5 separate regions of the Homo sapiens genome follow, and regions 1, 2, 3 and 5 are each reported to be linked to region 4. The links are microRNA targets in miRTarBase. Many come from high-throughput screens and were not tested one by one. Region 4 holds a microRNA gene; each other region holds the end of a gene's coding sequence. Distances are between the middles of the regions.

The links. Region 4 holds the annotated microRNA hsa-miR-6785-5p (UGGGAGGGCGUGGAUGAUGGUG, at 2,614-2,635, opposite strand). A microRNA usually pairs through its seed, bases 2 to 8, with sites in the 3' UTR of a target mRNA and lowers its output. Matches are read on the target gene's strand: a 7mer-m8 pairs with bases 2 to 8, a 7mer-A1 pairs with bases 2 to 7 and ends in A, and an 8mer does both.
Region 1: the mRNA of ASCL2 is a reported target of hsa-miR-6785-5p. Seed matches in the 3' UTR shown: 7mer-m8 at 3,639-3,645.
Region 2: miRTarBase lists PHF12 as a target of hsa-miR-6785-5p. Seed matches in the 3' UTR shown: 7mer-m8 at 1,003-1,009 and 7mer-A1 at 1,501-1,507.
Region 3: miRTarBase lists OSBPL10 as a target of hsa-miR-6785-5p. Seed matches in the 3' UTR shown: 7mer-m8 at 4,301-4,307.
Region 5: the mRNA of MBD6 is a reported target of hsa-miR-6785-5p. Seed matches in the 3' UTR shown: 7mer-A1 at 1,188-1,194.

The regions. Positions count from the first base shown.
Region 1 is chr11:2,265,263-2,270,362 of GRCh38, forward strand. ASCL2 (achaete-scute family bHLH transcription factor 2) reads right to left here. Exons shown (of 2, transcript NM_005170.3): 1 at 4,471-5,100; 2 at 3,236-3,864. The coding sequence starts at 5,070. The coding sequence ends at 4,489. Among named protein-coding and RNA genes, the nearest start is that of ASCL2, 2.8 kb to the right of the region's middle.
Region 2 is chr17:28,901,755-28,906,854 of GRCh38, reverse strand. PHF12 (PHD finger protein 12) reads left to right here. Exons shown (of 15, transcript NM_001033561.2): 15 at 338-1,605. The coding sequence ends at 672. DHRS13 (dehydrogenase/reductase 13) reads left to right here and starts at 3,776. Exons shown (of 5, transcript NM_144683.4): 1 at 3,776-4,037; 2 at 4,154-4,272. The coding sequence starts at 3,911. RefSeq lists an enhancer at 509-1,009 and silencers at 3,554-4,183, 4,685-4,877.
Region 3 is chr3:31,657,244-31,662,333 of GRCh38, forward strand. It overlaps OSBPL10 (oxysterol binding protein like 10), which reads right to left. Exons shown (of 12, transcript NM_017784.5): 12 at 3,582-4,873. The coding sequence ends at 4,829. Among named protein-coding and RNA genes, the nearest start is that of OSBPL10-AS1, 44 kb to the right of the region's middle.
Region 4 is chr17:75,496,088-75,501,187 of GRCh38, reverse strand. MIR6785 (microRNA 6785) reads right to left here and starts at 2,640; the gene lies at 2,560-2,640. It overlaps TMEM94 (transmembrane protein 94), which reads right to left. Exons shown (of 32, transcript NM_014738.6): 24 at 4,717-4,906; 25 at 4,381-4,458; 26 at 3,990-4,075; 27 at 3,326-3,407; 28 at 2,865-3,013; 29 at 2,650-2,744; 30 at 2,466-2,559; 31 at 2,106-2,276; 32 at 736-1,926. The coding sequence ends at 1,854. It overlaps CASKIN2 (CASK interacting protein 2), which reads left to right. Exons shown (of 20, transcript NM_020753.5): 20 at 18-927. The coding sequence ends at 108.
Region 5 is chr12:57,528,698-57,533,788 of GRCh38, forward strand. It overlaps MBD6 (methyl-CpG binding domain protein 6), which reads left to right. Exons shown (of 13, transcript NM_052897.4): 11 at 1-21; 12 at 249-312; 13 at 463-1,451. The coding sequence ends at 537. It overlaps DCTN2 (dynactin subunit 2), which reads right to left. Exons shown (of 14, transcript NM_001261413.2): 8 at 4,541-4,606; 9 at 4,287-4,325; 10 at 4,036-4,113; 11 at 3,875-3,946; 12 at 3,516-3,618; 13 at 3,318-3,409; 14 at 1,354-2,078. The coding sequence ends at 1,992. Among named protein-coding and RNA genes, the nearest start is that of MBD6, 8.4 kb to the left of the region's middle.

The sequences.
Region 1 (5,100 bases), not on the chromosome of region 4:
AAATAGTGAGTATAAAATAAGAAGTATAAAATAGTAAGTCAAGAGGTTGACTATAGAAGAAAGAAAAATGCTTTATATTTTAGCACCTTGAACATGACATCACGATCACCTTCTCCCTGGAATCAGTTTCTAACTTCCAGGTGGGGACTAGGCCTGGACCATGAGCTCCTAGCAGAGCCCTGCTGCCCCCACAGCAGAGCCCAGGACAGGCTGGCACCTGGGCCAGGTGAGGCTCTGTCCAGGCTCACTGATCTCAAATGCTGAACTGCTAAGGATGTCATGTCCCCAAAGGAGCCGCCAGGCTCAGCCTCACTTCCTGGAAGGCGTGAACATTGCAAGAATGTGGAAGTGAAAGAGTCCAGGGCTTAAATCTCAATTCTCATCATTTTCAAGCTGAGTCCAAGGGAGAGAAGACAGTCATGGATTCTTAGTTTCTGTTTCTGGTTGAGCCAGCAGGGTCCCTTCCTCATCCCTCTTTTCTGCTTATCACTAGAGACAGAAACTAAAACCATGACTTTAGGCTGCTGAGAGCCTAAAACAAAACGACAGCAAGAGAAGGTGGGTTGGACCAGCTTGCCTGTGACTTCAGGCACTTCATCTTTACTGGGCACTGGGTGAATGACAGTGTGGGGAGGGGTCTTCATAACACGGCAATCAGCAGCCCACTGTGCCCAGGAGACTCGCCTGTGGTCCTGGTTATCAACCACAGCCCTTTCCAGTCTCAAAAATGTCCCCGCTGGGACAGCAAGTTACATCGTCGCTACAAGTCCTGTCTCCTGGGAGATGCAGTCCAGCAGCACTACATCCTCTGAGCAGCAGGTGCCAAGTGGGATGAACTGGATAAGGACTGCATTCGGGGAAACGCCCGTGTGAAAGGAAATACACAGGAAGGAGGTGGCAACGGGTGGGAAGCCACTAGACCACGACGCGATTCTGCCCCAGTGAAGGCGAGGGGATAGCCTGGGCCTAGATCGCTGTGAGGTCTATGGAAGTTTCCACAAGCTTGCTGGGTAGTTCTCGAGGCAAACTCGGAAAGGGAGTCCCTTGTCTCCCTGGAACGGATCTTTCTTGGCATCTCTGTCACACTCATTAGGTGGGCCTGGTGTCAACCCCATTTGCAGGCCACCCCAAACTTGATCAAAGGTCCGCTTCTGGCACCCCATACCCTGTCCTACAGGAAATACAGGGACAGGCTCCCAATAACAACACCCAGCACGGTGCCATCAACACCACCACGCACACGGGGGCTCAACGGAACAGACATCTCCGCTTCTTCAATGAAGACACTGGAGGGAAATTGCTTACAAGGCGCTTAAGAGACCTATTAAGCAAACTTGATGTGTGGACCTGCGGCGGATCCCGATTCTATAAGGCCAACTGCACAAAACCACGAGACCCCCTGAGGACTGCGCCATTGGCTGGGTCCCCGATGATATGAAAGAACGGTGGTTCATTTGAGCGGGTGATGTTTTTGCGGTTTCCTTTAGAGGCACACGTGAAACATGACGGGTGAAAGGATTCAAAGTCTGGGATTTGCTTCAAAGCAACGCAGGGATGGCGTGGGGGATGGATGGGGCAGGAAGGGCCTTGAAACTGGTGCTGGAGGCTTCCCAGGGCTGCCCTGGAGCCCAGTGCGTCCTCCACCGGCCAGACTGTACAACGGTTGGATCCTGTGTCCACTGCTAGGACCCAGGCTCCACGAGCACGGGCTTGTGTGGCACACGGATGCACCCTAAGTCCTGGCACAGAGACTGCTCAACAAAGGCCTCGGTGCTTTTGTGTATGTTTGAAATTTTCCATAATAAAATGAAAAATGGGAAAATGGGAAAACAAAAATGGCAGCACTACTTACCCTCTGCAGAGTTTTGTCCGCTTCACGCCAGTGGGTGGCAGTCGTTTCCTCTGCCCTGGCCTTCCATCGTTTCCCCCCTACCCTCTTCACCCACCCAACAGCCCCCTGTGGTCCTGGCAGCTGTGGGCCTTTCCTTGAGGTCAAGGTGTGGAGTCCTGGGGAGGGCTCAGGGAGGCCACCGACCCGGGTGTGGATTCTGGGAGAAGCCTGTGGGATGTCCCTCCCTGGGTGACCACGGCAATGTGCCCCCTCCTGTCCCTTGGCCAAGGCCAGTTCCCTGAGCCCTGCAGCCCCAAGCCACAGCTGGTCCACTGACCCCAGTTGAGCCTGGTCCTCATCAGACCAGCTGACCCCTTTGACCCCCGCTACAGACTCGGCTTTGACCTTGGCTGCTGAGGAGCCCCCACCTGGACTGAGGCTGCAGCTGGCGAGAGAGGAGCCCTGAGCTCCTCTGATAAGAAGGGACCTGGCCAGCCTGACGTTTGAGACCCAGGCATCCCGGTAGCCTGGGTGTCCTGTTGCCGTGGTTATTCAGGAGCCACCCACTCTGGGACAACACCAGCTGCTCCCACCTCGCAGGGCTCCCACGGCTCTGTCCCAACCACTCCTTTCTGAAGGAAGGGGTGCCTCTGCGCCCTAAAGAAACCGGGGGAGCCCCACAACCCCTCCCCCACCAGGACACTAAAAGGCAGCTTTCGGTACAGTGAGACATCAAAGCCTCCTAGGCCCTGAGTCAAAGGTATAGCCGTGTAATATCCCAGTGCCAGCTCTCCGGCTGCGGGGAGCCTGGCGCAAAGCTTCCAAGCCTTCCTTGTTCCTTTCAAGAGCCGCTCTTAGAATTCAGGTGAGCGGAGACCTGCAGGGCCTCCCCAGTGCGGGCAAAACCCAAAGCTAGCGAGAGGGCAGCCTCCAGGCACCTCTCACTAACTCCTCCCAGAGGCCGTTGAGGTGGGTCTGGTCAAACCCATTTGCAAGTTAACCCACTTGCCCTGGGCTGCCCAGCTGCCACGTTAGTGGAGATCTGAGCGTGGTGGCCTGCGCAGGAGCCCATGCCCTCAGCCCCACAGCCGGTGCTCTCTGGTCAGACCACCTCAGCCTAGCCCCACACCCAGCACTTACCCCAGCCCTCGGGATGGGTCAGCAGCCTCCAGCCTGCAGCTTCCAAGCCAGCGAGTAGCCCTGTCTGGACAACCCACCAGCCCACCACCTCCTGGAGGATGCCCCCAGCCTCACAAGGTGTCCCAATGGCTCCGCTATCAACGGCCTGGCTGCACTCCAGATCTCACCCAGACCCACCCTACGGAGGAGGCAGCAGGGTTTGAGGAGTAGTGACCACGGAAGTCTGGCCGTCACCTGGGAAGTGTAGGTGATAGGAGCCACTGGTAAACAGAACTGATTTATTTATAAAGTTCACGCTCCCTTGAAGAGGTGTGCCCCACACAGGCTTCTCCCTAGCAGAGCAGCAGTGCCCACAAACCCACCCCAGGGTGGGCTGTCACGGGGGCCTCACGCCAGGGACCCCGCCCCTCAGGGACTGCTCGTGTCCAGATCTTGGCCAGCATGGAAAACTCCAGATAGTGGGGGCAGGGGTCCAGGTCATCTTTATTACGCCCCAGGTCAAGGGTTCTTTGTACAAAAATAGGTCTCCGTTTGCCAGCAGTGTCCCTCCAGCAGCTCAAGTTAATGTGTAGAAAATGGATTCTCTGTGCCCTTAGAAAATCCTCTCCCCTCCGGAAAAATCTCCAAGTGTTGGTGCCCCCCGCCCCACTGCAGTCGAGAAGCTGTGGGGAGGGGCGGCGTCGGAGGAAGCCGCCAGCCCTTATGGGGCCAGCTCCAAGCCCGTTTCCACCGCGGCATTGGTCAGGCTGGGCCGGACGAACGAGGCGGCGTCGGCGGTGCGGGGGGTGGTGGGTGGGTCCCCGGCTCGCTGGGGGCGGAGCGCGGGCCGGTCCACCTGGCGGGCTCCCCGGCGATGAGCGCGCCGGCCGCTCGCTCGGCTTCCGGGGCTGAGGCTGCGGGGGGAAGGTGGGGAACCAAACGCGCGTCAACGCGGGCGCGGGCCCGGGGCAGACCCCGCCCGGGCCGGCCCTGCCCGCACCTCCCCCAAGCGAAGTCGGCAGTTTCGTTTGCTCGGTTGGTTTTGGAGTCTTGAGTCCGTGGGTGCCGCGACTCGGTCTGAGACACGGCGGGGGCGGGGCGGGCGCTCGGAGCCGCGGTGAGTCAGGGCTCCGCGCCCGCCGACTCATTTCTGCCGCCCCGGCCCGGGAGCGCGATTTGCAATGCAAAGTCACCCCGCCTCCAGCACCCCAATCTGCCCCAGGATCCGCCAGCACTAGAGACCTCAACGGCCCGACGGCCGCTCCCCTCCCCTCGTCTACCCCTCCCTCGTCGGCGGCTGAGCCGCGAGGGGAAGTTTTGCAATCCCGGACAAACAAACGCCGGTCTTGCACGGGCTTGAAAAACTTTGGGGGAAATGAAGAGTGAGCGAAATCGAAGCCATCGCTCGGGCCTGGCGCTCGGCTCCGCGGGCTCCTGGGGGCGCGACCCGCCGGGCCTGCCCACCCCGTCCCTCCACCCCGGCCCCCGGCCCTCCCTCCTCCCTGCCTCCCGGCTGTTACCTCATAGGTCGAGGGCGCTCAGTAGCCCCCTAACCAGCTGGAGAAGTCGAGTAGCTCGCGCTCCGCAGGACTCAGCGCGCCTTCGCAGCCGCTGTCGTCCGACGAGTAGGCGGAACGCGGGGAGCCGGGCTCCGAGCTGCCCCCGCGGCCCGGGGACGAAGAAGCGCGGGAGGGCGAGGCGGCGACCGGGGTGGTCCCTGGCGGCCCGCGGGGCGCAGACGGCCGCACGGCCTGCGGCCTCAGCCCTCCCGCCAGCGCGTTGCGCACGGCGTCGTGCTCGGCCAGCAGGCGCTGCAGCGCGCGGATGTACTCCACGGCTGAGCGCAGCGTCTCCACCTTGCTCAGCTTCTTGCTGGCGCCGCCGTGCGGCACGTGCTGCCGCAGCGCCTGGAAGCCCAAGTTCACCAGCTTCACGCGGTTGCGCTCGCGCTCATTGCGCCGCGCTACGGCCGCTGCGCCGCCTCCGGTCTCTGCGGTGGCCGGTCGCCGCCGCCGGCTGCAGCGCAACAGTTCCGGGGACGCGGGTCTCCGCCGGGCAGCGCAGCCGACAGGGACGGGGGGCGCAGGGGGCGCGGACCTGGGCAGTGTGCCGCCGTCCATCGCGCCTGCATCCACCCGCCCGCTCCAGGT
Region 2 (5,100 bases), 47 Mb from region 4:
TAAGTTGGAGCAGAGATCTGTGGCCACAAAGCTGAGGCCCCAGTCAGGGTGGTTCTGACTTGCTGCCCATGGTCTGTCTCTTGCCTTCCCAGTCCTATTGGCCAAGCTCTACTTCCTCGTGGGCCCAGGGCAGGCCACAGAGAAGCAAGTGCTGAGTACCCCCATGTGTGTACACACCTGTGGGGACTTCAGACTCCACCAACCCTTTCTGAGCATCCTTCCTCCCTAGTCATGCAGCAGTTGGAATGGGGAGATGCAGGAGCCCAACCTTGGCAAACAGCCCACATGGGTTGGCTGCTCACTGTTCCTCTTCTGTGACCATCCCCCTTTTTCCCAGGGCGCCGCCGGCACCAGAAACAGGACGAAGAGCCAAGTGAGGAGGCAGCCATGATGAGTTCCCAGGCCCAGGGGCCGCAGCGGAGACCCTGCAATTGCAAAGCCAGCAGCTCGAGCTTGATTGGGGGCAGTGGGGCCGGCTGGGAGGGCACAGCCTTACTGCACCATGGCAGCTACATCAAGCTGGGCTGCCTGCAGTTTGTCTTCAGCATCACTGAGTTTGCGACCAAACAGCCCAAAGGCGATGCCAGCCTGCTGCAGGATGGGGTCTTGGCCGAGAAGCTCTCTCTCAAGCCCCACCAGGGCCCTGTGCTGCGCTCCAACTCTGTTCCTTAGGACTGGCGGCTACCCCGCCACTGGCCTGTACACCCACCCAAGACTCCTGCAATGCAAAAATGTACACAAACCAAGCCCGGGTGTTTTCTATACTCTACCAGAAACCCTTCAACTACAATCTTTGCATGAAATGAAGAAAACCTTTTGACTGTTTTTTAAAAATCCTTTTTCTTTTCTCAAGTTCTAGGGGGCATTTGCACATATATTTGTACTCAACATTTCATGGGAAAGCGGCAGACCTGAGCTGAGGAACAGCGTGGGCAGGGAGGGAAAGACCCAGGGTCTGGACACTTCCTCCAACACAAAACCCTTCCCCACCCACCTCCTGCTCCCTCCCCCTCGCCCACCATTGTAAAATAATCAGAAACTTGTTCTATTTTGTGGCAGTGACAATAGTTTTATATTAAAAGAAAAAATACAGTTTTCATACAGCAAAATCTATACAATATCATTGTTTTATTTAATATAAAGATCGCTACCCACCTTCCTTCCATGGTTCCCACCCTCCACGTTATTTTCCCTTTCTGCAGCGGTTGCACTACAGGTAGCTACTGTGTATTATGGACAAATGAGAAATGAATTCTTTTTCTGGCTGTCCATCTATTTTATTTCAAATAAGGAAAAGTGTATTTGGATTTTGTGTAAATACATCTAGTGATGACATTTTTTCAATGTTTTTAAAAACCGTGTACAGTACTACATGTGGTAGAGCGTTTTCTCAAATTGTCTATTGTAGCAAAAATGTTTTTGTCGTAAACCTGTTTTGTCTCCTTTTTTTGTTCTCTTGCCACTTCTCTCCTCTTCCTCCTGCCCCTGGTTCCCTCCTCTCCTCCCACCCCCACAACCAGTACCAATGTACATAGTAATTGTAATGTTTTAGACTTTACAGAAACTTTCCTGTATTCTGTATATAAAAAACAAAAATACTTCAAATTGTTTTCTGACTGTCTGTCCTACCTGTCATCACCCTTAGAGGAGACCCTCCCCTAGATCTGGGTCTAGCAGGTGGGGGGCCTTTTGAACAGGTCTCATTCCCATAGGGAAGTTTGGTAGGGGAGGTGTTGGAGAAAAGTGAGCCAGGGTGGGTGGATGACAATGGAATGACATGGGTGCGTCTGCTGGCCCGGGGGGAGCTGTTTCTCCAGAGAACCCTGACTGATAGTGGAATCTAGTCTTGACCTGTCACTTCTAGTCATGTGATCTGCAGTCACACTTCTCTACAACTGCTATTCCTCATCAAAAAACGAGTCTGCTGCATTACCTTAATTCTCAAGTCCCGGGGACCTTCATTAAACCAAATTCCATGCTTTCCTCCCAGATCTTAGTGAAAAACTCTCCAGGAAGTTTTCCTGAGGTCAGCCTCCTCAGATGGAGAGCACCTCTGTGTATATTCCAGCACTGTTTGTGTAGGTGCATCTGCTTGTGTGTCAGGATTTTGCCTTAGGGATAGAAAATGAATATTCTACCCCCAGCCTCATCCCACAGCATCTACAATGGAAACCCGAATCCGCAGTGCAGCTAAATAGGAAACTGGCCCTGGAATCTGAGGTCTGTCCCTGACTTTCATCTGCCCATGCAGGCGTCATCACTCTGCTCCCGGTGCCCTAATGGGCTTTTTGAACTCCCTAAGGACAGAAACTTGTATATCTTCCACTCGGAATTTCCAAGTCTAACTACACTGCTGGGCACACCATAAGTGCCAAATACCAGGTTCTAAATTGTACTGAATGTATCAGGCAACGGCCTTCTGCCCTGGAATGGTCTTACCCATTTGTTCCTAGCCAGCCCCACCCTTCCTGCCATCATGGTCACTTGTAATTGAGTGATGGAGCTTCTCTGCCTGTCTCTTATCACCTATGAGAACCATTCCAAAGGCAAATTTCCTCCTGAAAGGCAATAACAGATTTTACTCTCTATCTCTTCCTGCTTCCCTTCAGCCATGGAAGGCACTAGTGGGGTTGAGGTAGGGAGATACAGAGGGGGAATGAAGGAGTGAATTCTGACACCCCTTAACTGCCTGTGCCACCTTTAACAGTGTCCTCTCTAGCCTGTGTGGGGAGAACACGGAAGAATCCTAGAAGCTGGGGGCTGGATGTGAAGATAAGAAAACGAAGGATTTGGCCCAGTGCAGAGGCTCACACCTGTAATCCCAGCACTTTGAGAGGCTGAGGCAGGTGGGTCACTTAAGGTCAGAAGTTTGAGACCAACCTGGCCAACATAGTGAAAACCCTTCTCTACTAAAATACAAAAATTAGCCGGGTGTGGTGTCACACACCTGTGATCCCAGCTACTCTGGATTCTGAGGCAGGAGAATTGCTTGAACCCGGGAAGCGGAGGTTGCAGTGAGCCGGGATCACGCCACTGCACTCCAGCCTGGGCAACGAGAGTGAAACTCCGTCTCAAAAGAAAGAAAGAAAGGAAAGAAGGAAGGAAGGGAGGGAGGGAAGGAAGGAAGGAAGGAAGGGAGGAAGGAAGGAAGGGAAGGAAGGAAGGAAGGAAGGAAGGAAGGAAAGGAAAGGAAGGAAAGGAGAAGGATTTGTGCAGAAGGGAAGGAAGGAGAAGGATTTGTTCTTAGAGGGAAAAGCATCTAGGACTAGACTCAAAGACACACGTGTATTCATGTACACACCTAACTTCAGAAGGGAGGGACTGTGCTACATACACCTCGAGTAAACATATGGAGATATGCAAGCACATGCACTGGCAGAGACTACAGATGCAGGCACATACCTGGAGGGACTCTGCCAGAATGCACACAAACACCTACAAGGTGCTTACAGGAGCTCACACACAGGATCCAGAGGCACGCACACAACCCAAAGGGTGATCCTCAGGGACATGGGCACATACACACCTAGAGATCATTCACATACAAGCGTTGCAGATGCATGCACATACCTAGCGTGCACTCACAGGGTGTACGTGGACACACACACCCAGGAGTTCACACAGGCACACACCTAGGGGGCGCTCCCAGGGCCCAAGCGCACACACTCACCTCAAAGGTGTCCACAGAGGCACACGCCCCCAGGACGCCGACGCACGCCTAGGGGGCGCTCGCAGGGCCGGCGCGCACCCGCACGCGCACACGCCCCTGCCCAGCCTCCTGCCCGCCTCCGCCTTCGGAGGCTGACGCGCCCGGGCGCCGTTCCAGGCCTGTGCAGGGCGGATCGGCAGCCGCCTGGCGGCGATCCAGGGCGGTGCGGGGCCTGGGCGGGAGCCGGGAGGCGCGGCCGGCATGGAGGCGCTGCTGCTGGGCGCGGGGTTGCTGCTGGGCGCTTACGTGCTTGTCTACTACAACCTGGTGAAGGCCCCGCCGTGCGGCGGCATGGGCAACCTGCGGGGCCGCACGGCCGTGGTCACGGGTGAGTGCGGAGGCGGGTGAGTGCGAGCTGGCGGGGCGCGCGGAGAGGAGGCCGGGCCGGCGGTAGCAGCGGCCCGCCGGGCTCAGCTCAGCTCGGCTCCCGCCCGCGGTCCGCAGGCGCCAACAGCGGCATCGGAAAGATGACGGCGCTGGAGCTGGCGCGCCGGGGAGCGCGCGTGGTGCTGGCCTGCCGCAGCCAGGAGCGCGGGGAGGCGGCTGCCTTCGACCTCCGCCAGGTGAGAGGCAGCGGGGGCGCGTGGGACGGTGAGCCGAGAACCCGCCGGGACACAGAGAAGCCAGCAAAGGGGCTGCGGAGGATCCGGGTCCAGGGAGGAGAGCGCGGCGCGGGCGGCTGAGCGCGAAGAGGGAGTGCACGGAGCGCTGGGGTCACCCGAGGAAGGCGCACCAGAGCCGAGTGGGGGAGGGGCTTCCTGAAGGCCGTAATTGCAGTTCTGAGACGTTTAAGCATCAGTAGAAGTTGGGTTAATGATCAGTAGGAAAGGGAACAGCAGAGGGCACAGCATAAGCAAAGGCTCTGAGGCAAAGAGAGCTGGACTGATCTGAAAAACTGAGAAAAAGATTTAATGAGGCTGGAGCACAAAGTATGAGGAAGATGGGCAAATGAGGGGGCTGGAGAACATTCTAGAGCCTATTGAGAAGCTTGGATTTTATAGATTGGGCAGCAGAGACCAGTGGAGACCATGAACAGCCCTCAGTAGGCTCCGGACTGTCAGAATAGCCTTTGGAAGGAACTCCTTTGTGGCTGCGTGGTGCCTGGAGTGGGGGGGCAAGAGCGGGAGAGAGGAGACCAGTGAGAAGTTACAGATTTTAGGGTAAATGGTAATGGGGAAAGGAGGTGATAATAATAATAGCAAGTACCTACCCAGTGCTGCTAGAGTGTATTTTACACGTTAACTCCTTTCATCCTCACAAAAGCTCAGTGAGATTGGGACTGTTGTTATTATTATTCCCTTTACGCAGTGAGAGAACTGAGACCCAGAGAGATTAAGTATCTTGCCCAAGGTCACACTTTAGTAAAAGGCAAAGTCAGGATTTGAATCCAC
Region 3 (5,090 bases), not on the chromosome of region 4:
GCTAGATTGACAAAGAAAAAAAAATAACTAAAATTAGAGATGAAAGTGAAGACATTACTACCAGTTCTACAAAAATAAAAAGGATCCTAAGAATACCATGAACAATTGTATGCCAACAAATTGAATAACCTAGACGAAAGGGACAAACTCCTAGAAACACACAACCTACCAGGATTGAATAATAGAGAAACAGAAAATCTAATTCATCTTATGAGGCCAGCATGCTCCGGTACCAAAGCCAGAAAAGACACAAGACAACTACAGATCAACAACCATTATGAATGAATATTGATTCAAACATCTTCAGTGTAATACTAGCAAAGCAAATTCAACAGCATATTTAAAGGATTATTCACCATGAGAACATGGAGTTTACTCTTAGAATGCAAGGTGGTTCAACATATGAAAGTCAGTGCAATGCACCACACATTAACAGAATAGAGGGGGGGAACCACTTGATCAACTCATGCAGAAAAAGCATTCTGACAAGATACAACACCCTTTTATAACAAAAACACTCAGCAAAATAGAAGTAGAAGGAAAGTACCTCAACATAATGAAGTCCATATATGAAAAACCCACAACCAATCTCATAATAGTGAATGGCTGAAACCTTTTCCAGTAAGATCAAGAACAAACAAGGATTTTTTTTTTTTTTTTTTTTTTTGCCTCCTTCCTTCAACACAGTATTTGAAGTTCTAGGTACAGCAATTAGGCAAGAACAAGAAATAAAAGACATCCAAATTTGGAAGAAGTAAAATCTGTTAGCAAATGACATGATTGTATCTAGAAAATCCTAGATCCCACACACCCCCCAAAAAACTGTTAGAATAAACAAATTCAGCAAAGGATACAAAACCAATGCACAAAAATCAGTATTATGTGTTTTTTACGAAATGAGGTCTTGTTATGTTGCCCAGGCTGGAGTGCAGTGGCTATTCACAGGAGCAATCATAGCATGCTGAAATCTCAAACTCCTGGGCCCAAGCAATCCTCCTGTCTCAGCCTCCTGAGTAGCTGGAACTATAGGCATGTGACACTGTGCCTGGCACTTACACTTTTATATGCCAACATTGAACAATCCAAAAAGGAAACTGAGAAAGATCTACTTACAGTAGTACCAAAAAGAGTAAAATACTTAAGAATTAAACTTAACTGAGGAAGACTTGCCCAGTGAAAACTACAAAACATGCTGAAAGAAATTAAGACAGATAAATAAATGGAAAGATATTCTGGTTAACAGATTGGAAGACTTACTGTTAAGACAATGCTACTCAAAGGGATCTACAGATTCAATGCAATCCCTATCAAAATCCCAGAGTTTTTTGCAAAAATAGAAAATTTCATCCTAAAATTCACATGGAATCTTAAATGACCCTGTACAGACGAAACAATATTGAAAAAAGAATAAAAAAGTTGGAGGTCTCATACTTCCTAATCTTGTAACTTGCTACAAAGCTACAGTAACTAAAAGAGTGTGGTACTGGCATAAAGACTGACATCGACCATTGGAAAAGAATAGGCCATAAATAAACATTCGTGTATATAGCCAGTGATTTTCAACAAGGTACCAAGATCACTCAATGGGGAATGCAGAGTCTTTTCAACAAATGGTGTTGGGGAAACTGGATATCCACATGCAAAAGAATGAAGTTGGACCCTTATCTAACACCATATATAAAAACCAACTCAAAATGGATCAAAGTACCCCCTACCCCCCAGTAAGACCTAAAACTATAAAACTCTTAGAAGAAATCATAGGACAAAAACTTCACAGCATTGTATTTGTCAATGATTTCTTGGATATGACATCAAAAGCACAAGTACAAAGAAAAATAAATTAGACATTATCAAAATTAAATACTTTTGTACATCAGAGGACACCATTAACAGTGAAGAGGCAACCAAAGAGTCAGAAGAAAATATTTGCACATCATATCTGATAAAGGATTAATATCCAGAAAGGATTAATACCCATAAAGGACTCCTAAAACTCAACAAAAAGAACCTAATTTTAAAATGGGCAAAAGGATTTGAATAAACATTTCTCCAAAGATTTACAAATGGCCAAAACCACAAAAACACATGCTCAACATCACTAATCATTAGGGAAATATAAATCAAAACCACATTGAGATGGCACTTCATAGCCATTAGGATGGGGTTAAAGAAACAACAAAAGTAAAAACAAAATAATAGGTATTGGTGAGGATGTGGAGAAATTGGATCCCTTGTGCATTGCTAGTGGCATTGCAAAATGTGGCAGCCAGCTCTTGTGAGAAACTGTGTGGCAATTCCTTAAAACTTAAACCAGAATTTTCATATGATATAGCAATTCCACTTCTCAGTATATTTTTAAAATGCCAGGCTGGGCACAGTGGCTCACACCTGTAATCCCAGCACTTTGGGAGGCTCAGGTGGGTGAATCACCTGAGGTCAGGAGTTTGAGACCAGCCTGGCCAACATGGTGAAACCCCATCTCTACTAAAAATACAAAAATTAGCTGGGCATGGTGGCACACGCCTGTAATCCCAGCTACTCGGGAGGCTGAAGCAGGAGAATCGCTTGAACCCGGAAGGCAGAGGTTGCAGTGAGCAGAGATTGCGCGCCATTGCACTCCAGCCTGGGTGACAGAGTGAGACTCCATCTGGGAAAAAAAAAATAGTTAAAATGGTAGATTTTGTTACATATATTTTACCACAATAAAACATAATATGAACTCAGCAAGAAAATGAACAAATAGAGCAACAAGGATTGAACTAGAAAGAAAATATTGGCTCAAATAGGCAAACTAGGGTATGATTCAATTTTTACAAAAATGGGTAAAACCAATCACACTGTTTAGAAATACACACATAGTGTGTATAGTCTAAAAGAACAACAAAAAACCCATAAGGGGATGGTTATTCCAGGAAGGCATGGAGAGGGATACAATTGTATAGGGGCACAATAGTGGCTTTTAAGGTACTGGTAAACAGGTTTCTTTGCTTAAGCAGTGGCTACAAGGGTATTTATAATTATTCCTGGAGTACATATGTTTTATGTAAATCTCCTGACACATAACATTTCACAATTTTAAATGTACCCCTGGCCTCAAAAGAAAAGTGAGCCCTCTCCATGTTTTACTTCCCAGATGGTTTATGCTTTGTAGTCAGACTGGAAAATCCAACAACACAGTGATTACTTTTCAGTCTCATTGAGTTGAGTTTTCTTCTTTTTCTCAAAATAGCATTTGTTCCACTTTCTCTGTCAGAAATAAGATGGTTCCAGATACTTGATTCACCCAGATGCTTTAAAGACTGTGGACCTAAGTAGGCTTCTATTGTGACTTCTGGCAGTGACTCTTCTCGTGAAACAACACTCACTGGGTAGGAGTTAAATGTTCTTATGGACTTACCAGAAAATATTCATAAATGTTTATCTGGTACATTTTTAAATGTGTTAAATACTTTTTCCATATAGATATGATTGCTCTTCATATCAATAACTAGAAATATTTAACCAGGAAAAGTTGAGCTCACTTAGAGCCACCAATTTAATAGAACTGTTGAATCCCTGAAAATAAAACACAGACACAGATATGTATTCAATCGAAATATATTTGTCTAATATCTACAAAGTGTGAACAACTGGTCTTAAGAAAGCAGACAAAAGGCACAAAATTAGTATTACTACAGAGAAGCATTCATGCTATTTGGATTTGATAAATATTGGAGTGGCACAGTAAAAAATAAATTAAGCATTCAGCAAAAACCAGATATTTCATTTTTTCCTTGCTTTGTATTTTCGTCACTCCTTTGACCTCATGTGTAAAGGCTAAAAACTGAAATTTAACTGAAACCATGGAATATTTATGCAGGCGTTATGTATGTTTTAGTCACAGTGCTTTCTTGCAGAGTTTGGGTTAACCAGAGAGGTGCACTTGAGGAAAAAATAATCCACAGGAAATTCTCTTCTCTTTCCCCAAACTAAATACAAGATTGAGGCTGTGGTTGTGCATGTTTTCATGTGCATGCATGTATTTAACTTCTAAAGCCCTTTTTCATCACAAAAGAAGTCTCCATATGATTGACTGGTTTTCTGATGTAAAAGAAGCAACTTCTCAAAAATGAATGACTAGCGCTGTGACCATGAGAGACGGGTGGAAAACTCCTTGGTGGGCCTTGGCTCTTAGTTGTCCCAGAGGTGCTCCATCCTGCAAGGCTCTGGCATAAATCTTTAACAGCTTCCTGCCAACCCCCATCCAGCAGGAAATACTTGCTTATCTTTCTTGGGCGCGGACAGACAAAACACTGAGGTGGGGAGGGAGGTGAGAATCACAATAATTTTGAAATGATAACCACCCATACTTCTACCAGGAATGAGCCACTTTCTCCCTTATGGACAGTGATCGGGCCATGCCAGTTCACCTTCATTTTGACAGGAGTTGACTAAGTGAGAATATCTTTGTGAGTGTAAAACATTTTTGGCAAAGTGAAAAATAGAAAAACTTCAAACTTCATTGATAAAAAGGAGCTTATGATTACCCACTTTAACCTTGGTGAGTGCAGTATTTAAATGTGTAATCATACTCAGATGTTTACATAGTGCATGTGTGTGAACGTATACGGTGTGTACACACACGTGCCCCGAATGGCTCTTGAATAAATTCATTCCTCTAGCAGAGTGTGGGGGTGCACTTTTCATAGTATATAATTTCTCTCTCTCTCATCATTTCTTGGATGCTAATACAAGGTCTCAGTGAATGCCAACAAAACCCTGATACTCTACTACTTTAATATTCCTACAAAAACAGGGCTATACTGGAAAGCTCTGCACCTCCACCCCATCAGTGTGCTTTCCAGAGGGGATTGAAGTATACCCAGCCATCGCCCTGCAAGAGAAGAAAGGAGGCATTATTACATGGAGACCTCTCAACAGGGAAAAGGGGAAGCAAGGATAACCGCAGCCACTCTGTGTGTCTGCCGTGTCTTAATACCTCACACGCAGGCCAGGCTGCTGGCCTCAGTACCCCTCCTCAGCCCAGCTGCTCTTTGGAGATCTAGATGACCTTGACCTTCCTACCCTGGCATGGCAGGAGGAAACCCCAA
Region 4 (5,100 bases):
CCTTCCCCTTGCTGCAGCACCCCCAGCGCCTCCACCAAGCACATTCTGGATGACATCAGCACCATGTTCGACGCCCTGGCTGACCAGCTGGACGCCATGCTGGACTGAGCCCTCCAGCAGTGCCCACTGTGACCTGCCGAAGTCCACTGCCTTTGCCCCAGCACAGAAGAGGCCCCTGCCACCCTAGGGACGGGCCAAGGGCTGGTCAGGCTGAAGTGCCCCTCCTAGCAGGGCCCCTTCCCACTCAGCCCGCGGCTGTGGGCACCACAGCTCTTGTGGGGCAGCCCACCTTAGAACCTGACTAGCGAGGGACCTCCGCTGCATCTCAGCAAAGCCCCTCCCAGGGTTTGATCGATTGAGCAGGACAGCCCTGCTCCTGGACAGGGACCCTGGTAAGAGCTCTCTCCTCAGGGAGGAAGTAGGGGTGGGGCTTTGGGGGTGCTTTCTCTGTACCCCCCAGCCCATGTCCCAAGTTGTGCCAAGGGAATGCCTCTTGCCACCCACCATCCTGCCCAGGCCCTGAGAGGCTGGAGGAGGCGTGTGTCTGGCCGGGCCCCCTCTCCGTAGGTGTACAGAGGACATGTAAATACACAGCGGTGGTGCCCAGGCAGCTCCTGCCCCCGCCTTCCCTCACTGAGGCAGGGCTAGCAGGGGTGGGAGGCAGTGGGGTTAACAGATCCCACAAGTCCTAACTTTTCAATTGTAAATGTTATTTTCTAAGCAGAGAGAAATGCATATATTTTAAATGGAATTTATTCTATCAACTGCCTGAGAGGACACAATGGGGGAGGGGCTTCGGACCACAGCAGGAGCCCCGACTGCCCACCTGAGGGCAGGGAGAGCCTGACCCCATTGGCCCAGGCCCTGGCTCTGTAACCATTAACCTCTTCCCCCAACTAACACCAATGAAAACACCATTCCACGTGACTGGGCTGTGTGTTTGCCTCTGTGACATGGGGACCCCTGACCCTAGGGGTCTCGCCTGAGCCAGACCTGAGGGACCCACCCGCGTAGATGGAGGAAGGTTTAGGCCTCCCTTTGCCAGCCACCGCCGGGGGTGGGCAGACCCTGGAGTGGCCTTACAGACCAGCCACAGGTATTTCTTAGCAATTGACACATTTTAATACAAACCAGTCTACATTCATTCCTAAAAGGCTCATTTCCAGTAAAAAATATACACCAGTAGAAACTTCTCCCAGAACTGGGGCAGAGGCTGAGGAGACCTGGGCCAGATTCCCCAAGACTGACAGGCAGCCAGCTTGAGCCAGGCACAGGAAGAGGCTCCAGGGCGAAGCGGGGGCCCTGCTCCATCTTCAGGTTCAGGCGGGAGACTCCCCCACAGAGGGAGGGAGGGGAGGCACTCGGGGCCACATCCAGGCAAGCACCACCCCCCTGCCCTCCACGGCAGCCTTGGGAGTTGGACGCGTCGGCCAAGGCTGCTGCTGTTGCTCCTCCAAAGAAGGTTGGCTTCAAGGCCGTGTCCAGGGACCCACGAGCAGAGGCACTGGGGGGCAAGGGATCTCCAAGGGGGCAAGGGATCCCTAAAGGGGGTAGCTCACAGGTGAGGGGGTTTAGGGCCCCTCTAGGGAGCGCCTGAGGCCATACATTCAAGAGTGTCCCTGGTGAGGCCCAGGGAAGAGCCAGGACTGGCCAAGGGCCCAGGCCGTCAGCTCCTCCACAGTGAGCCCCAGGGCTCAGGAAGACAGCGGGGTCTGACACGGGGAGCTGGGTTTCCAGTGCCACGGGTGCAGGAGCAAACCTGGAAACATTCATGATACAAACTCCCCTGTTCAGAAATGGGTCTGGCTTTAGCCCCAGGGACGGGGGCAACTACAGCCACCACAGCCAGTGGCTCAGAAGGGAGAGTTCATGCCCAGCTTAGTTTCAAACTGCAGCTTCTGTCGCTTCTGGTAGCGGACTCGGACCCTGGTGGGGCAGGAGATTAAAGTACAGGTTGGCAAAGATCCTTAGACCAGGGGCCGGGGCAGGACACCAGAGGAGGAGGGAGGGATGGGCAGCGGAAAGGTGGGGGAGTGTCGCCAAGGGAGTAACAGGTTTAGGGAACATGCCTGAGCCCAGAGGGAGGCGCCCTGCTGACAGCTCACCGAATCTCATGTAGCTTCACGATCTCATTGGTCACCACCACAAGGACCAGGGACAGGCAGCCCAGGAGCCATGTCAGCAGGGGCACGTCCTCCAGGCCAAAGTGGACGTGGCTGTCCCTGTGTGTCCACAGCTGCAGGTCCACAGCCGTCTGGACCACCTGACCCAGCAGCCTGCAGGAGGTGGCGGCCCCGTGTGAACCCGACACTGCTTGCTTCCTTCCCTGCTCTTCCCAGTACAACAGTTAGCTCAGGCAGGGTACAGTTAAACCACTGGCCCCGGTCCCGCCCTCCGATCCTAGCCCTGCAGAAGGCCCTCTCCTCCCCAGCCCACACTCCGCCCTCCATCCTAGCAATACTCACACCACAGGCACTGTCACGGCCCACCAGAGGTTGGTCAAGGGGCTCTTTCTCCACAGGGGCTTGGTGCGATGCACATGGGTGATGGAAATGAAGACTGGGGAAGGTGGGGCGATGTGGGGGTCAGACTTCCACAGTGGGGCTCCTCTCCCACCATCATCCACGCCCTCCCAGGGAGCCCTCTCACCAGTGTGCAGGACAATCAGGGCGGCCGTGAGCTTCTGAGCCGACAGCAGTCCATTGGCAAAGTCCTCAAACCAGGCTGGAGCCCTGTCGTCGTTGCTGCCAAAGTGAGGCATGGGCTCAGCCCCTCTAGGGCCGCAGGGAGGTAGGCTGGGGTGGGGAGGGAGGAAGCCTCGAGGCGAGGCAGGCGATGGGTGGATCTCTGGGGCTGGGACCCACCTGGGCAGCATGACGGAGGAGCAGTTGGTGAGGTTGCGGTCCCGGGAGCTGTCACAGAAGCTCTGCAGTGTGAAGCCAAAGCAGATGAGGCAGGAGCTGATGGTGAGGCTGAACTTGAGCAGGAAGCAGAGCAGGAAGTAGTGCTGGGTCTGCGGGAACAAGGCCAGTCACTCCTGGGGCGCACAGCCCCTCTGCCGGCTGCTCCTAGCTCTTCCACGTATTCAACGGGCTCTTAGTAAATGGTCAGGCCTGGGGGGATAGGGAGCTCAAGCCCCAGCAAGGGTCTTTCCCAGCTCTGTGCCACTACCTCCTCTTTGATCTGGGGGAAGACTAGGAACCAAGTGCCGGAGTTCTGCTGGAATCCCCCATCCAGAGCCTTCCAGATTAGCCCCTCTCTCCTCCCCCAATCCTCAGTCCCTTCCATGCTCACTTGCAAGGCTCACAGGGTCTGTTTTGCTTACCTTCTTGGGAATGGACTGGAGGTTTTTCCCCGTTGCCATAGACATGATGGAGCTATGGGGGGGCTTCCCCAGCAGAGAGATGCTGAAAAGCAGAGATCAGGTAGAGGGATGGTGACAATGACCCTCTGTCCCTCAATTCTCATAGAGGGAACCTCTAGGGAGTCTTGCGCGTGAGGTCGAGTCTGGTGAGGGGATGGAATAAAACAAAGGCTGGACGGCAGTGGCTCACACCTGTAATCCCAGCACTTTGGGAGGCTGAGATGGGCAGATCATTTGAGGTCAGGAGTTCAAAACCAGCCTCGCCAACATGGCAAAAACCCATCTCTACTAAAAATACAAAAATTAGCCAGGCATGATAGTGGGTGCCTGTAATCCCAGCTACTCAGGGGGCTGAGGCAGGAGAATCACTTGAGCCCGGGAGGCGGAGGTTGCAATGAGCAGAGATTGCACCATTGCACTCCAGCCTGGGTGACAGAGCGAGACTCCATCTCAAAAAAAAAAAAAAAAAAAAAAAAAAAGACAAAGGGGGTTCCCTCCATGCCTCCTGTACCAGAGGAGGTGAGACCTGAGCAGTTCCAGAACCTTGGGCTCCTGGGGCTGCACAGTGACATCCAGACACCTCCTGCTTAGGCATGGGGTGTGGGGAAGATACATGGCATCTCACCTGAGCAGAGGGTAGCAAAAGCAGGACAGCCACAGGATGTCGGTGGTACTCAGGAGTGGCGGCAGCTGGACCAGGCAAGAAAGGAACTAGACCAGGAAAGAAGCCAAGAGCCACAGTTCAATTCAGGCAAATAATAAGGGCATAGGAGCCCCCGAGCTCCCTTGCCCTGGGCCCAGATAGATGCTCACATCCTGCCAGAGGGAACAGGGGCCGGAGGGAATACTCTTCTGCCAATGAGGGTCAGCTCAAAAAGCCCAGGGGCTTCACAGAGGCTCTGGGGGGACCCCTTGACTGTACTGCTAACCCCAGCCTCCTTCCTCAGATTTTCAGCTGGCCCCTGAGTGAAGGGGTGAGTGGCACGGGGGCAATGCCTGTGCGGGCCCCACCTCACCTGGATGACCACAAGAGTCAGCTGGCACTGCAGCAGGAAGAGGAAGCACTTACGGATGCCATAGGTGGCATGCCGAGCCTAGGGACCAAGAGGGACAGATTATGGCCTGGGTCTACCTGGCCTCTCCCAGGCCCAACAGCTGACACACTTTAGCCAAGAGCCAGACGCCCAGGATGCTTCTACGAGGGGAGCAGAGGCGAATGTAACTGCCTGGGAGAGCCCGCTCGGAGGGCTGGGGAATGAGGTCCCCGGGTTCAAACAGGTCCTTTGCTGCTACTCCCACCCCAGGCGGGTCCTGTCCTGCGTCTCTCCTCCTTTGCCTGCCGAAGCACCCACCTGTTCGATAAGCCGGATGATGCTGATGGTCTCCTCCTGGCGAAAGGTCAGGGAACAGGGCAGGCTGTTGAGCTGCCCTGACAGCTGCAGGGGAGAAAGGCCATCCGAGGCCTGGGCCATGCTGATGCTGGTGGCGTAGCCAAAGGTCTCCCAGGAGCAACGGGATGGGTACAGGGGATCCAGGGCAATGCTGCTCAGGGTGGGGGACACACACACTTCAGCTGTATCTCCCACAGGACTGGGCACCCCACCCTCTTCTCCCACCATGCCCAGGTGCATTGGTCCCAGCCAGGGCGAGGTCGGCTATAGTACACACCCCCAGCCCCACGCAGGCCCATCTGATCCTCCGGTCTGGGAGGTAGAGGCTGGCCCGCAGGCTCCAGG
Region 5 (5,091 bases), not on the chromosome of region 4:
TGGCCGTAGGAGAAAATACAAGTGAGTGTTGGGCCTACTATAGTGCTGGCCTTTGCCTACTTCTTTTTGGTTTGGACAGTTCTAATGTCCAAATAGTGGCTTGGTTTTCAAAAGGGCAGATTCTTATTTGAATATGAATAAGGATATTATGCCTTTACTATCCAAATGTAGAAAGTTTCCCACCCAAACTTCTGAAATTCACCTGGTGCTTGGGAGCTGTTCCTGATCATCTGTGCCCCTTATTGCAGCCCTACCCGGAACAGCAATAGCTCCCGCCAGGACATTACCTTGGAACCCAGCCCTACAGCCCGAGTAAGTGTGTGTTTGGGTGGATGGGTGGATGGGTAGGGTGTAAGGGATGAGGCGGCAGGAGGAAAGGAGGGTTAGAGGGAGTGGGGAGAAAAGAAGACTTCCTGATACCTAGCAATTGACCACTTCTATCAACTTCCCCTCTGATATTAGGCAGCTGTCCCTCTGCCTCCCCGGGCCCGCCCTGGCCGTCCTGCCAAAAACAAGAGGAGGAAACTGGCCCCATAGCAGCCATACCTGGAGCTGGATCTGACCCTGATTGGGGAGAGCTGAGTGCTGAGCCTTGGGAGCCCCTGCCAGCCACCTGCACCTGTGGACAGTGGGTGGGGGCACTACTCCCCACTCAGAGCACAAATGCAACTCCTTCCCCTACAATCCCATCCTGAGCCATTGCAGGGGGCAGGGAAGTTCACCCCCCCCCACCACCCCCCCGCCCCCCCGAAGCCATGTCACTGAAAAGGCCTGGGGGGGATGGTATATGGCCCTTTCCCCACCAGGCGCTAAGGGGAACACCCCCTTCCCCAGGTCTTTTATTTGTTTAAGTTATTTTTGCACAAATGACTCTTTTATATTTAATTCGATTTCATTGCCTCCCTTCTTAAAGCCAACAGGCTCAGTTTACAAACCTGTGAGCTACTGTTGGCTGCTGCCCTCCTTCCCAGTGAAAGGTACAAAGCAATAAGCATCATGCATCCTCCCCTTACCCCTCCAACACCCCTCTGCCTCTGGCTCAGGTTGCTCAAAGCACAGATCCTCTCTTACCCCGTCCCCAGGTTTGAAACACATAGCCTCATTTCAAGGTGTAGCCAGGTTCCCCCGACTTTCCTCTGGGATATAAAAAAGGGGGTAAGGGGGCAAAGAGAGCCCTCTGGGCCTCTCCTCCCATACACACTACACTGCCCCTTCTCCCCCCATCAAAACGCTCAGAGACGTTGTGATGATGCGACTGAGGATTATGCAACGTGGTCCAACCGGAGCGGCCAGCATGACCAGCTGTCCAGGGGCTGCCTCCTGCCTTTTCTTTTGTAAAGACAAGACCCTTGGGAGTTTTAATTCTGTTTTGTACTTGCCCTGTGGGGCCTCCACTGCTTTTCTATGGGAGACACTCTTAATTTAACAGATGAGAATATTTTGAAACTCTGGCTCTGGCTCTGTACTCATTTTTTATTTAGTTCTTTGGTAAGAACAGGTTACAATTTAAATCCATCTCTTGTAGTATAGAGTGGCTTAGATTGCCTGTTATGACGAATGAATATCTATATCCTAGTGCTGCTTCCTCCCCAGGAAACACAGCAGAGGCCACACAGAGTACAACAGCATTTAATGGTCAGAAACAGTTGTACAGTATTACAGTCAGCCACAGAAGCTGTGTTGGGGGACAAGACCCAATCCTTCCCCACACCAGGCAAAGCAGTATTGGACATGAGTTGGCATGTGGCTGGGCCCACGTCCTTATCCCCCAGGCCTGAGGGGAGACCACCTTCTGATGATAACCAACCCCTAGCTACCACTCTGTATTCATCAGGGGAGGGGTATAAACCCCACATGCAAGAAGAACCCTTGCCCCCAGTGTCAAATGGGATGGGGATGCTAGAGTTATAGTAAAGGGGAAACCCTATGTAAGCTGTTAACAGAGTTCACAGGGGTAGGGATAACCCCTGTTCTCCAGCTCCCAAATGTGCTCACTTTCCCAGCTTCTTCATCCGTTCATCAATGCTGGCAAAGTTCCCCTCAACTGTGGCCAGGTTTTCACGCATGGTTGTCTGCACCTACAAAGTGGTAGAGAGGTTTTACTCTTTGTCAGGTCCAGTTGCTTAACTGGATGAGGACCTGAAGGAATTCTCTGAGAGAGAAGACAAGAAATGGAAGCACAATTTGTGGGCCACAGAGGGGGGATGTTTATAGCACCAATTTTCAAGCTACCCTTAGAGTACATAGACCACGCTTGGGGTGAGCCCAAGCAGGTAGGACTCGAGAATTCCCATCCTGACTTCAGCCAGAACAGTTTTTTAAAATCTGTTTTATGTAATGAGAGCTAAATAAGATTTTGTTGAAATGAGGGTTTCACTGGTTCAAAATGTTAGAAAACTGCTCTGGAGGAAAAGGATATTATTCTAAGTCCTTTATATATTTTTTCATTTATCTCAGTGATCCTGTGATTGATGCTGGTCTCTCGACTTTAATGCTCCTTCCAGCACTGAGAACAGTGCCTCCAACAGAAATTGGGACTTGCGGCCAGGTGCAGTGGCTCACGCCTGTAATCTCAGCACTTTGGGAGGCCGAGATGGGTGGGATCACTTGAGGTCAGGAGTTTGAGACCACCCTGGACAACATGGTGAAACCCCGTCTCTACTAAAAAAAAAAATTAGGTGTGGTGGTGCGTGCCTGTAATCCCAGCTACTCAATAGGCTGAGGCATGAGAATTGCTTGAGCCCGGGAGGTGGAGGCTGCAGTGAGCTGAGATCACACCACTGCACTCCAGCCTGGGCAACAGAGCGAGACTCTGTCTTAAAAATAAAAAACAATAAGAAATTGTGGACTTGCTGTGTGCCAGGCATTACTAAAAGAATGAAGGAGCTAGGTGAGGCTCATTGTCCAGGGCCAGAAAGGAAGCGACAGAACGAGATTAGGGCCTGCTTCTGACTTCAAAGCCCGGATTCCTTCCAGTGTACTGTGCTTATCAGGGAGAGTAAAGTTGAGACGACAAAGGGAAAGAGTGGGGTTTTATAAGAAAACATGTTCACTAGCCCCTAACAATTTGCCCATATTATTTCACCTCATCTACATAACTCTGAGGGAGGTATAATTTCCCAGATGGAAAGATGGAGGTTCATAGGTTAAATAAGTTGTCAAAGGGCCTTCACATTGAAAGCAGGATGGAGACTCCAGACCAACCCCCTGCCACAACACCATGCTACAAAATAGGCTAAGGCAGAACCCTATAACACTGGAGAACCTAGTTTGCACATGCTGGAGAAAGGAGGACAGATCAACAAAGGGGCACACACCTGGGTCAAGAGGGTGGTATTGTCCTTCAAGGAATTAGCAATCATCTGCTGGGTGGTATCCAAGTGTGTCAGGAGCTGACCAAACTGCATGGCTACAAAAGAAAAGTATGGTTGAGACTTGAATCCAAGATAAGGGAGGGGACCAAAAGTTGCCCATTTTTCAACTTCTCTTAGCACTCCTGGCAGCTGGCCTCCCACCTTGCTCGTGCAGCTGCTTGATGGTGACAAGTCTCTGCACCAGCTCAGGGAGGGTGGAGGCAATGGGGCTCCAGCGCTGTATAGTTTCATATAGCTGGTGCACCTGAAGGGACACAATGGGGCCCAGAGGGGATGGCTGAGGCAGCCAGGTCAGTATGTACAGACTGCTATTTCACCGTAATGGGGGAAAGGATCAAGTGGGCAGAGGGAAGCAGTGCCCTGACTTTCCAAGCTGATAAGCTCTTCATAAGAGCTTATGAAGATGGGGACCTGAGGAGTCAGTGTGTTCTCATGCTTTGACACTGCCACTCGGAGAACCTGAGGGAGTGGAAAGGAGATGGGGAAGGTGTCTTCCTGACCTTGCTTTGTGTATCTGCATCTTCTACAGAGGCTTTATGCTTGGCAATCTCGTTCACCTTTCCCAGGACACTCTGAAAACACAGATTTTAAGGTTGATAGGGCATCCAGGGCTTCCAGAGTCCCAAGCTATCCATAATTTAATTTTCCCTCCATTTAATACCTGTAGCCGAGCCTCCACTTGATCCAAAACTGCAAGGTCTAGGGCGCTCACCTTTGCTTGCAACAGCTCTACAGTCTCCTGGGGATGGAAGTTGGGACAAGCATCATGAAGAGGAAAGGCAGACTAGCAAGAGGCCTCCCATATTCCACTAAATTAATATATAGCTACAAACTCAAAAATAATCCTCAAAGCAAACCCAAACCCAACTATCCCCTCTGTGATCCAAACACTCCAGTTTCTTCCAAACTCACCATGAGACAGGCTCCCTGTAGACCTGCAGAAAGGGGATTCTGGTGGGAAAGGAAGGGAAGAAGTGAGTGGTCCTTATATCTCCATGATTATCGTCTTCTCCCATCTTTCCTGGTTCTAGCTGGGAACCCACTAGCTGATCCCTGTAACTGAAGCCCTTTGATGACTCCTCCCAGGCTTATGTGGAATGTTGTAGACCTTAAGGCCTAGAGTTGCAGGATCTAAGGCTCAGATTATGTACAGGAGAACACCTGACCTGAGCATCCTGATCACAACGTACAGCTGTCTCCAGCTCTGTCAGGCGCTTTTCAAGTTCTGCGACCTAGTGGGAGGAAGGAGGTGAGATTTGCCATCTGCTTCCCTGCTGCTGCAATGGGAGGAATACGATCCTGCTCTACTCTGCCTGCCACTCACCACCCCAAGGGATTCCTTTCCCTGGAATACATACCTAGCCACAATCTTAAAATCCTAACCAAAGGTAGATGGGCGAGGGAAACATAGAGAATGAGGTCGGGCGCGGTGGCTCACGCCTGTAATCCCAGTGCTTTGGGAGGCCGAGGCGGGCGGATCACGAGGTCAGGAGATCGAGACCATTCTGGCTAACATGGTGAAACCCCATCTCTACCAAAAATACAAAAAATGAGCCGGGCGTGGTGGCAGGTGCCTGTAGTCCCAGCTACTCAGGAGGCTGAGGCAGGAGAATGGCGTGAACCCGGGAGGCGGAGCTTGCAGTGAGCCAAGATTGCGCCACTGCACTCCAGCCTGGGAAACAGTGCAAGACTCCGTCTCAAAAAAAAAAAAAAAAGA